2 separate regions of the Homo sapiens genome follow, and region 1 is linked to region 2. The links come from fine-mapping of genetic effects on gene expression. A gene starts in region 2. The other region holds a variant in brackets. All regions are shown on one strand. Distances are between the middles of the regions.

Region 1 (5,242 bases), 54 kb after region 2:
TCCTGACTTCAAGTAATCCACCTGCCTTGGCTTCCCAAAGTGCTGGCATTACAGGCATGAGCCACCACACCTGGCCTTTTTAGTCCATTTTCTAGATGAGGAACATTTGTGTTGTTTCCAGTGTTTTGATAATTAGGAATAAAGGTATTATAACCATTCACGTATTCCCCCCTCTTAGATTTGGAAATTGTTCAGTGTAAATACCACACAAAACAAAATATAGAACACTTCCATCCCTCCAGAGAGTTTTCTTCTGCCCCTTTCCAGTCAGTTCCCTCTTGTCAAACCCTTTCCCCCAACCCTTATCTAATTTCTGTCACTACAGATTAGTTCTGCCTGTACTTGGATTCCATATACAGTAAATGAAAGTATGCAGTATATTCTTTTGTATCTGGCATCCTTTATTTAATGTAGTGTTTTTGAGATTTATCCAGGTTGTTGCTGTTTTAGTAGTTAATTCTTTTTGTTGCTGAATAGAATTCCACTGTATGGATATACCACAGTTATGCATTTAGTAGAGTGGTATTTGGATGTTTTCATTTTGCCTGTTAGGAGTAAGGTTACAATAAACATTTTGGTACAAATGTTTTGGTAACATGTTTTAATTTCTCTTGGGAAGATACTTAGCTGGATAGATGTATATTTTACTTGGTAAGAAACTGCCAGATTTCCAAAGTGTTTGTACCTGTATAAGAACTTTGATTGTTCTGCATCCTCCCTGACATTTTGTTGTGATTCTTTTTCATTTTAGTGTAGTGGGTGTGAAGTAATATCAGCTCGTTTATTTTAACTTTTCTTGTTTCTTGATTAATGCTGTCCCTCCAGGAACTGCTGTAACTGTTCCATAAGTTTTGATGGGTGCTGTTTTAATTAATGTTCAGATCTGTATATTTCATAATTACCTTTGTTTCCTTTTTAACACAAGGGTTATTAATATAGGATATTTTGAGCTATCTTTTTGTTGTGGATTTTCAATCTGTTGCATTACAGTTGGAAAGTAGTTTGTATGACATCAGTCCCTGACATCAGTCCCTGAATGTGCCTTATTTTAGAAACATTTCATATCTAATAGCTGTTAATTGTATTTGTTCAGATCTTAGATATCTCCTTGCATTGTCAACTTGGCGTATCTTTTTCTGAGAGAGATGTATTAAAATATTTAACTGATGATTTATGTATTTCTACTTGCTGTTCATTTGTTTTTGCTTGATATATTTTGAGGCAGTATTTTTACATGTGTATCTCTTGTTCTATTCTTTTTGTGACTGTATACTACTTACTGTTAATTTTAGCTTTCTTTTGGTTTATGTTTGTTTTAGGTATATGGTTTTCTATTTTATTTTTGCTCTTTTTAAATGTGTTTCTTGGGGCTGGGAGTAGTGGCTCATGCCTGTAATCCCAGCACTTTGGGAGGCGGGGGCAGGTGGATCACTTGAGCCCAGGAGTTCGAGACCAGCCTGGGCAACATGATGAAACCCTATCTCTACAAAACATTAGCCGGGCGTGGTGGTACCCACCTGTGGTCCCAGCTTCTTGGGAGGCTGAGTTGGGAGGATTACTTGAGCTCAGGAGGTTGAGGCTGCAGTGAGCTGAGATCATGCTACTTCACTCCAGCCTGGACGACAGAGTGAGACCCTGTCTCATTTAAAAAAAAAAAAATTAAATGCATTTCTTGTAGACAGCATATGTTTTTTGATACAATAGGAGCATTCGACTCTCTTAAATGGTGAGTTTTGTTTATTACATTTTTTGTAATTATTGTTATTTTCTGACTCAGTTCTGCCATCTATTGCTTAATGTCTTCTTGTACTTTACGTGTTTTCCATTGGACAAATGAATTTTTTTCCTGATGTTTTAAAGTTACATATTCTATTGTAGTGTTATAATGACAGTATACTCAGTGTAGTGTATAGTATATGAGTATAGAGTGTCATTATAACACTAAAAATGCTCTCTCAAACTGCATTCCTGTGGGTTTGTTCCCCTTAAAATTTGTATTACTTTTTACTTTGAAAATAATCTATACCTATAGATAAGTTGAAAATGTAGTATAAAGAATGCCATCATATTCTTCATCTAGATTTAAAAGGTGTAAACAGTTTTGCTTAATTTGTGTTCATGTACATCTTTACTGTGTCTCTCTGGTATTGCTGTGGTCTCCTGGCTCCTGTTTTTTTGTTGTTGTTGTTGTTGTTGTTTTTTTTTTGAGAGAGGGGTCTCACTCTGTCACCCAGGCTGGAGTACGGTGACGCAATCTCGGCTCACTGCAGCCTCTGCCTCCTAGGCTCAAGTGATCCTCATGCGTAAGCCTCCTGAGTAGCTTGGATAGGCAAGTGCCACCATGCCTGGCTAAGTTTTTTGTATTTTTTTTAGAGATGAGTCTCACCATGTTGCCCAGGCTGGCATTTAACTCCTGGGCTCAAGCAGTTCGCCCACGTCGGCCTCCCAGAATGGTGGAATTACAGGCCTGAGCCACTGCGCCTGGCCAGCTCCTTTTTTTATTCTGTTGTTATAATTCATTATTGTCTTTGAAATTCAAATTGTCCCAAATTTGGCCAGTGGAAACTCCTTCGCATGGTCACTTTAGAGATCTTTTATCAGTCTTTGGTTTTCAGACACAAGACATTTCTGGCTTCCCTCGTCCTTTTCTGCATTGAATATGAACAGACATTCTCCAAGGATTCCTGGTTCATTTTAATGAAGAATGGTGCTTAGGAACCAACATCTAGGTGCTAGTTATGCTTGTTGTTATAATACATAATAGTCTCTTAGAAGAATGCCAGCTAATGTAGAATCAGAACACTCACCATTTGACATCCCCAATATAATTATTGATTAAGGCAAGGATCATATGTTTTCCATTGGACAT[T/A]TACATTTAGTAAAATGTTTTCAAGAGCAGTATACTTACAGAGTCCTAATGTTTTACCCCATAGATTAGTTATTACAAAAGAGAAATGTGTCTAAAATGGACACCATTTCTCACCACCATAATAAGCAAGATCAGACTTTTCATTGGCATATTATCTCAGAGAATCTGACATTGTATGTGCCTCCTAAGGTGGTGCAGTAGGAGTTACACAAATCACCTCTGTTTTTAATGCTGGAAATATTTGATTTGAATTTAGTCATGAGACAATACTCCTGGGACACTGCTAGACAACTGGCCTGGACTCATCAAAGTATTCAGTGTCTTGAAGAACAAAGAGAGGTAAATGGAATTGTTGTAGATTGGATGAGGCTAAAGAGACAAGACATAGCAATCAGATGTAATGTGTGAATCTGAATCCTGATTTGCACCTGGACTGGAGGAAAACAGTTATAAAGGACGTTTTTGTGACAATAGGGAAAATTCAAGTACAGGTATATGTTGGATGAAGATACTGAATTAATGTTGGTTTTACTCTTTTGTCTTTTAAGTTGTAATTTTAAAATATAGGTGAAGCTACAGAATGTATGACAGTTGTGACCAATGACTCCTGTAATGTTTAGAGTGATGATGATAATGTGCTTGTGAGATGCAGTATTAATAGGTAGGCAAATTTTAATGATAGTAGCATCAAGAGTTTGTAATTTGGAAGTAAAAACATTCTAAGGATCAAATTGCTGGTAGCAACGGTGCTCTAGCAGAGAGGGTCGGGTAGAAAGGTAAATACATTATCTAGGAGTATTGATTTATTTCTAGAGAAAAATAGAGCAGTATATTTGCCAGCAGCAAGGAAGTAAGCACAAGCAACAGATACTGTACATACAACCTTCATTTTTTGTTTTTCTGCTTTTATTGTTTTTAATTGATAGAGTAATTGTACATATTTATGGAGTACAGTGTGATATTACATGTAGAGACAATGCATAATGATCAGATCAGGGTAATTAGCATATTTGTCACCTCAAACATTTATCATTTCTTTGTGATAGGAACATTCGAAATCTGCTCTTCCAGTTATTTGAAGATATACAATAAATTGTTGTTAATTATAGTCTTCCTATAGTGCTATAGAACACCAGGACTTACTCTTCCTATGCAGCTGTACTTCTATATTCATTAATCAACTGTTGGCTGTCCCCTCCCGCCTACTCTTCCCTGCCTCTATTCTGCTGTCTACTTACAAGATCAGCCTTTTTGGTTTCTGCATATGAGTGAGAACATGCAGTATTTATCTTTCTGTGCCTGGCTAATTTCACTTAACAATGTCCTCCAAGCTCATCAGTGTTGCTGTGAATGAGAGAAATTTTTTTAATGGTGAAATAGTATTCCATTGTGTATGTATACCACATTTTCTTTATCCATTTGTCTGTTGATGGACACTTACATTGATTCCATACTTCAGCTATTATGAATCATGTTACAGTAAACATGGGAATGCAGATATCTCTTCAGCATACTGATTTCCTTTCCTTTGTGTATACCCAGTAGTAGGATTGCTGGATCATATGGTAGTTGTATCTTTTTTTTTAAGGAGCCTCCATATTTTTTTCCATAATGGCTATACTAATTCGCACTTCCACCAACAGTGTAGGAGGGTTTCCCTTTCTCTGCATCCTTACTAGTATTTGTTATTTTTTGTCTTTTTTTTTTCGAGACGGAGTCTCGCTCTGTCGCCAGGCTGGAGTGCACTGGCGCAGTCTCGGGGCTCACTGCAGCCTCCGCCTCCTGGTTTCAAGTGATTCTCCTGCCTCAGCCTCCTGAGTAGCTGGGACTACAGGCGCACGCCACCACACTCATCTAATTTTTGTATTTTTAGTAGAGATGGCGTTTCACCATGTTGGCCAGGCTGGTCTCAAACTCCTGACCTCAAGTGATCCACCCGCCTCAGCCTCCCAAAGTGCTGGGATTACAGGCGTGAGCCACTGCGCCCAGCCAAGCATTTTTTAAATATACCTGTTAAAATTTGTATGGTTTTTGTATGGTTACTTCTTTCAAGAGATGTCTTTGCCCATTTTTAGATTGGATTATTTATTGTTTTGCTGTTGAGTTGTTTGAGTTCCTTGTAAATTCTGGATATTAATCCCTTCTCAGATGAATAGTTTACAAATCACTTTCTTGCAGGTTGTATCTTCACTCTATGATTGTTTCCTTTGCTGTGAAGAAGCTTTTTAGTTTGAGATAATAGTTTGTCTGTTTTTGCTTTTGTTGCCTGTGCTTTTGAGATCTTCTTCATAAAATCTTAACCTAGACCAATGCCCTGAAGTGTTTCCTCTAAGGTTTCTTCTAGTAGTTTCATAGTTTGGGATCTTACATTTA
Region 2 (5,242 bases):
ACAAAAAATTAGCCGGGCATTGTGATAGGCATCTGCAGTCCCAGCTACTCAGGAGGCTGAGGCATGAGACTTCCTTGAATCTGGGAAGCAGAGGTTGCAGTGAGCCAAGATTGCACCACTGCACTCCAGCCTGGGTGACAATTAAAAAAAAAAAAAGTACTATGAATTGGCATAAGGATAACTTAAAAACTTGAAGCTCTGGAGAAGGTTGGGAGAAAGATAACCTACCATCATCAAACCTTTTTGGTTGGGCTTTGTTTACCATTTTTGAGAGGAACTGAGCTCTGTACAGTCTCAGAATTGGTAGGAGCTTTAAAAATCACTCAGTGACTCTAACCTCTTTCTCGTAGATGAGGAAATTGAATCAAGTTACCTGCTGAGACTAATACTCAGGTCTCTTAACTTCCTTCCTGTCCCATGTTCTTTTCACCGCAATCTGCTGACTAAGCTTACTCTTAAAAATACAGAAAGAGCATACATTTATCAACATGTCATTACAGAAACTCTGTTCCTCTTATAGTGCATGTATTTAGGTATAAAAATCGAATGGCAAGATCCTGGGTATGTATCCAAGGGAAAGGAAAGCCTATGTCCACAGAAAGACTTGTACATGAATGTTCTTAGCAGCATTATTCGTAACAGCCAAAAAGTGAAAACAATGCAAATGTCCATCAATAGTTTAATGGATAAACAAGTGTGGTACACTCATTCAGTGTAATACTACTTAAAAATAAAAACAAACTATTGATAATGCAACAATGTGGACGAATCTCTCAAAAAAATAATGTCGAGTGAAAGAAGCCAGACAAGGCCTGGCACGGTGGCTCAGGCCTGTAATCCCAGCACTTTGGGAGGCCAAGGTGGGCGGATCACCTGAGGTCAGGAGATTGAGACCAGCCTGGCCAACATGGTGAAACCCCATCTCTACTAAAAATACAAAGTTAGCTGGATGTAGTGGCACGTGCCTGTAATTCCAGCTACTCAGGAGGTTGAGGCAGGAGAATCATTTGAACCCGGGAGGCGGAGGCTGCAGTGAGCCGAGATGGCACTCCAGCCTGGGCAAAACAGAGTAAGACTCTGTCTCAAAAACAAAAAACAAAAAACAAAACCAAAGCCAGACAAGAGTACAAATTGACTGTATGGCCTGCATTTATCTAAAATTCTATGAAATGGAAAGCTACCCATATGACAGAAAGATCTGTGGTTGGAGAGAATGGAAGTAGTGTGGAGGAGGAACCACAAAGAGGAAACTTTGGAGGGTGATAGATACATTCACCATCTTCCTTGTAGAAGTGGTTTCAGGGAGGTATACACATCAAAACTTATCAAATTGTACACTTTATTTTTATTTTTTTGAGACAGAGTCTAGGAGTCTCGCTCTGTCGCCCAGGCTGGAGTGCAACGTTGCGATCTAGGCTTACCGCAACTTCTGCCTCCCGGGTTCAAGCGATTCTCCTGCCTCAGCCTCCCGAGTAGCTGGGACTTCAGGCGCGTGCCGCTACACCCGGCTAATTTTTGTATTTTAAGTAGAGATGGGGTTTCACCATGTTGGCCAGGCTGGTCTCAAACTCCTGACCTCGTGATCCGCCCACCTCGGCCTCCCAAAGTGCTGGGGTTACAGGCGTGAGCCACCGCACCTGGCCAATAATTGTACACTTTAAATATGTGCAGTTTATTTTGTCAATTATACCTCAATAAAGTTGTTTGTGAGATGTCCCTCTTAAGTTTGAAAAGCAGACAAGACTAAAAACTCACTGAAGTATCTAAAGCACAAGGCAACTACAATTACTTCTGGAGATAACTGACAATCAAGGTTCTTTTCTAGTATGATAGTTTATCTGAACAAAACATTACTATGAGAAATGCGAAGTCATAAAAATAAAAAATAGAAACGACATTTTTGTCCCCCTGGTAATCATGCCATTTCCTCTTGTCTGTGCAGTAGCGCTATATCATAATCTTTTTAGTGCTCTATTCAATTTGGTTTTCTAAAGAGAGAAATAACCTTGTTGTACTTTTCCTGAACTAGAGTGCTCTTTTATGTACAAGAAGCCCAATCCCTGGTGTGAGTATACTTGTGTGGGTCTGTAGAAAGCTACACTCTATCTATAAATTTTAGCAAATGCTGTTATTTATTTTGGGATTTTTGTAGTCGGGACTCAGCGGAGACACTAGAAACAAATTATAAGTTTCTAGAAACCATACCTTCTGCAAGATGAACGCTGTATAGTTTTCCTAAATATGTGATTCAGTAATCACATTTTTCATTTAGATTTTCCACTTACTGTTTTAAAACAAAGAATTGCTATACCATACAGTCTACAAAACTGGTAATTTTCAATTTCCTCATTAAAGATTCTTCACTCTTTTTTAGAAAACACGAGAAAGTTTTATTTCCCAACTCTCCCACTACCCATGTTTATTTTCATAGCTCTTTTATTCGGTCATTATTCCCATTCTGCAGACGGGGAGGCGCACATACGTTTTTCTGCACAGTACAGAGGGGCAAGAAAGAAGGAACTCTCAACTTTTCAGTTCCATTTTGAGAAACGATCACATTGAACTCCCGAGAAGCGGCAGCTGAGCGAGAGCAGCAGCATTTCTCCCCGTGTTGGGTGTGGGTCAGGAGAGAGGCGCGCTTCCGCGGGAGACAGGGGGAGTCAGGTGGCAGCGGCGCTGGAGCCCGAGCGGCGCGGCGGGGGCGCGCCTCCCTCCGGCCGGCGCGGGGACGCTGCCCCCGCGCACGCGAGTCCGGCAACCCCGGGCTCCCGCGCCGCGCGGCGATCCGCGGGTGCGGCAGGGGCGCCCCGGCGCTCTAGTCTCTTCCCTCGCGCGCTCGCTCCTTCCCCATGCCCCCACCCCCCAGCCCCTGGCAGGTCCCTCCCCCAAGCCTGCTCCCGCGGCCGCCGCTGCCGCCGCCGCCGCCGCCGCCGCTACCGGAGGCGCAGGAGCCTCGCGATAGTGTTTGCACAGGCGGCGCGTGACGCCGCCGCCGCCTGTAACTGATGCAGAGGTTACCCCACCGCCTCAGCCGCCACCCACAGCCCGCCGCCGCCGCCTCCCGGGCGACGCCGGGGGCCGACGCACTGCAGAGGTGCCGGCAGGTTCCGCCCGCGGAAGTGTCCTCGGCCGGCGCAGCCCGCGCTCCGCCCGCGCTCCGACCCCGGCCCGGCTGGCACCCCCTCGACGCCTCCGCCGCCGCGCTCCTTTCCTCCTCCTCTCCTCTGGCGCGCCCGCTCGCTCCCTCGCTTCTCCCCCTTTCCCTCCTCCCTGTCCCCTCTCCTTCCCTCACCTCTTTCCTCCCCACCTCCCCTCTTCTCGGTTTCCTCCCCCATCCCCTTGACTCTCCCCTCCCAGCCCTCGCTCTCTCGCTCGCCCTCAGCGCGGCCCCCGCCATGACGGAGGCGGGTGCCGGTGCCGTTGCCGCCGCTGCCGTCGCAGGGGGGGAGTCGGGTTCCCAGAAAGTAGCTTGATGAGTGTCCAAAGTAGCAGTGGAAGTTTGGAGGGGCCGCCATCTTGGTCCCAGCTCTCCACGTCTCCAACCCCGGGCTCGGCGGCGGCGGCCAGGTCCCTGCTGAATCACACGCCGCCATCCGGGAGGCCCAGGGAAGGTAAGCACCGCCGCGCCCGCGCCCGCTCGCGGGCCTCCTCTCCCGCGCCGCGGACCCCCGCGCCCCCCCCCCGCCCCCCCCGCCCCGGGGCTTCTCCGCCAGACCCTGGGGTGGGGGATGGTGGCGAGGTGGACGCGAGGCCGCCCGGCTCCCCGGCTCTGGGGAGGTAGTGCCCTGGCTGTGGATGGTGGTTCGCGGGTGGCGGAGGAGACGGACGAGGGGGTGCGCGCTGGTGGGGACGGGGCGAGGCGCATAGACTCGCCTGGGGTTCCTGGGAGCCAGTCCTGCGAGGGTGGGAAGCCTCCCCCCAGACGCGAGCCCCTTTCTGCTCCATTTGCCAGTACACTCAGTACTCTTAACCTCCTGGCCTCCGGTCTCTGGTGGGTTTTCCCTCCCGCTGGAGCCTTCGTCCTCGAGCCCCCTCCCCTTCTCCCGCGCACTCCTCCCATAGAGGCGGTCCCCACTTTGCGAGCTTTGCTGCCCGGGACCTGGAGGATGCCCCTCGCTTGCTGGGTTTCTCCTTTGGGGAGAGACGCTGAAATTATCTGGGCAGACTTTGATCCCCTGTGTGGCCCCCTAGAGCAATTTAAACGACAGACTGACTCGTGGGCAGGCTTTTAAAACCGCCCCTCCAGATGGTTGCAACTTTCTCTCCTTCGCCGTTGCTTCCTGCGTGTTTGTGCGTTATATTCTCTGCTGCAAGTAGGCTACTGTTCTTCTGTGACAGGGTCGTGGGTTTTGTGGGAAATATCTGCGTAAAGGTTATTGCAAACACGCACCAAATCGGTTACAATTGTTTTCTAAGTTTTCTGGCTTCTTGCAAGCAAGTGGGCTGCCACCAGATGTAGCAGTTACACAGCTTGTAAGGCACCGGCGTGCTTTTGACTAAAATTTCAACTTGCTGTATCTAAGTATACAACATAAAATGAAATTTGGGAGAAAACACATTTATGGGGAATGAATAAATGTGCATGGAATGTCTTTTAACGCTCTTTAGTCTGGAAAAAGCTTAGCGGTATTCATCCGCAATTGGTAGACGGGCTGTTCACTCCTAGTTGTCGCACACGAGGAGATAGGCACATTTTCAAATGTCTGGAAGTTCAACCGTCTAGTGAATGTTTTAAAGAAATCAAGAGCTTCGATTTATGTAGGAATCGGTGCGAGTACTTTATTTTGAAAATATCTGTCGATATTTGCTAGTCAGAGCCTTGACAAGTGTTAATCAAGTGTTTTGTGCCCTGAATCCAGTGGTTCAGGCATAGCATTCTTTGTCATTTTGTTCCTGTGAGCATGTGTGAAAGTGACAATAGGCTTAAAGATTGGCATGAATATGCTCTAGAAAATTCACGGAAAGCTTTGATTTATGGGATCCATTAAACATGCGGAATACATTGACAGACGTTTCCCCCTTTCATCTTATCCCAACGCTGAGCTTTCATTGTTAGAATATAGAAGTTTATTTATTAAATGACTAGAAATTTAGTATATCTGGTGATTCTTTTGCACTTGAAAATTTTTAAATGAACGGTTTAAAATGTATTTCATAGAGAAGTTGATGCTTGCTTTTAGCATGCTTTTACTTTTGTTTGTAGTTTCATTAAGATGTTTAATGTTAGTGTTATGAGTTTAAA

The links. PIP is the estimated chance that this variant, and not a neighbour inherited with it, causes the effect.
Region 1: its variant is the best candidate, but not a certain one, in a credible set for the expression of TLK1 in whole blood (TOPMed, PIP 0.87).

The regions. Positions count from the first base shown.
Region 1 is chr2:171,105,022-171,110,263 of GRCh38, reverse strand. The region is part of intron 2 of TLK1 (tousled like kinase 1); the gene reads left to right. Among named protein-coding and RNA genes, the nearest start is that of TLK1, 53 kb to the left of the region's middle. The variant T/A (reference allele first, on the strand shown) is at 2,870.
Region 2 is chr2:171,158,659-171,163,900 of GRCh38, reverse strand. TLK1 (tousled like kinase 1) reads left to right here and starts at 3,008. Exons shown (of 21, transcript NM_012290.5): 1 at 3,008-3,611. The coding sequence starts at 3,473. RefSeq lists silencers at 2,418-2,477, 2,608-3,327, 3,598-3,837 and an enhancer at 3,192-3,836.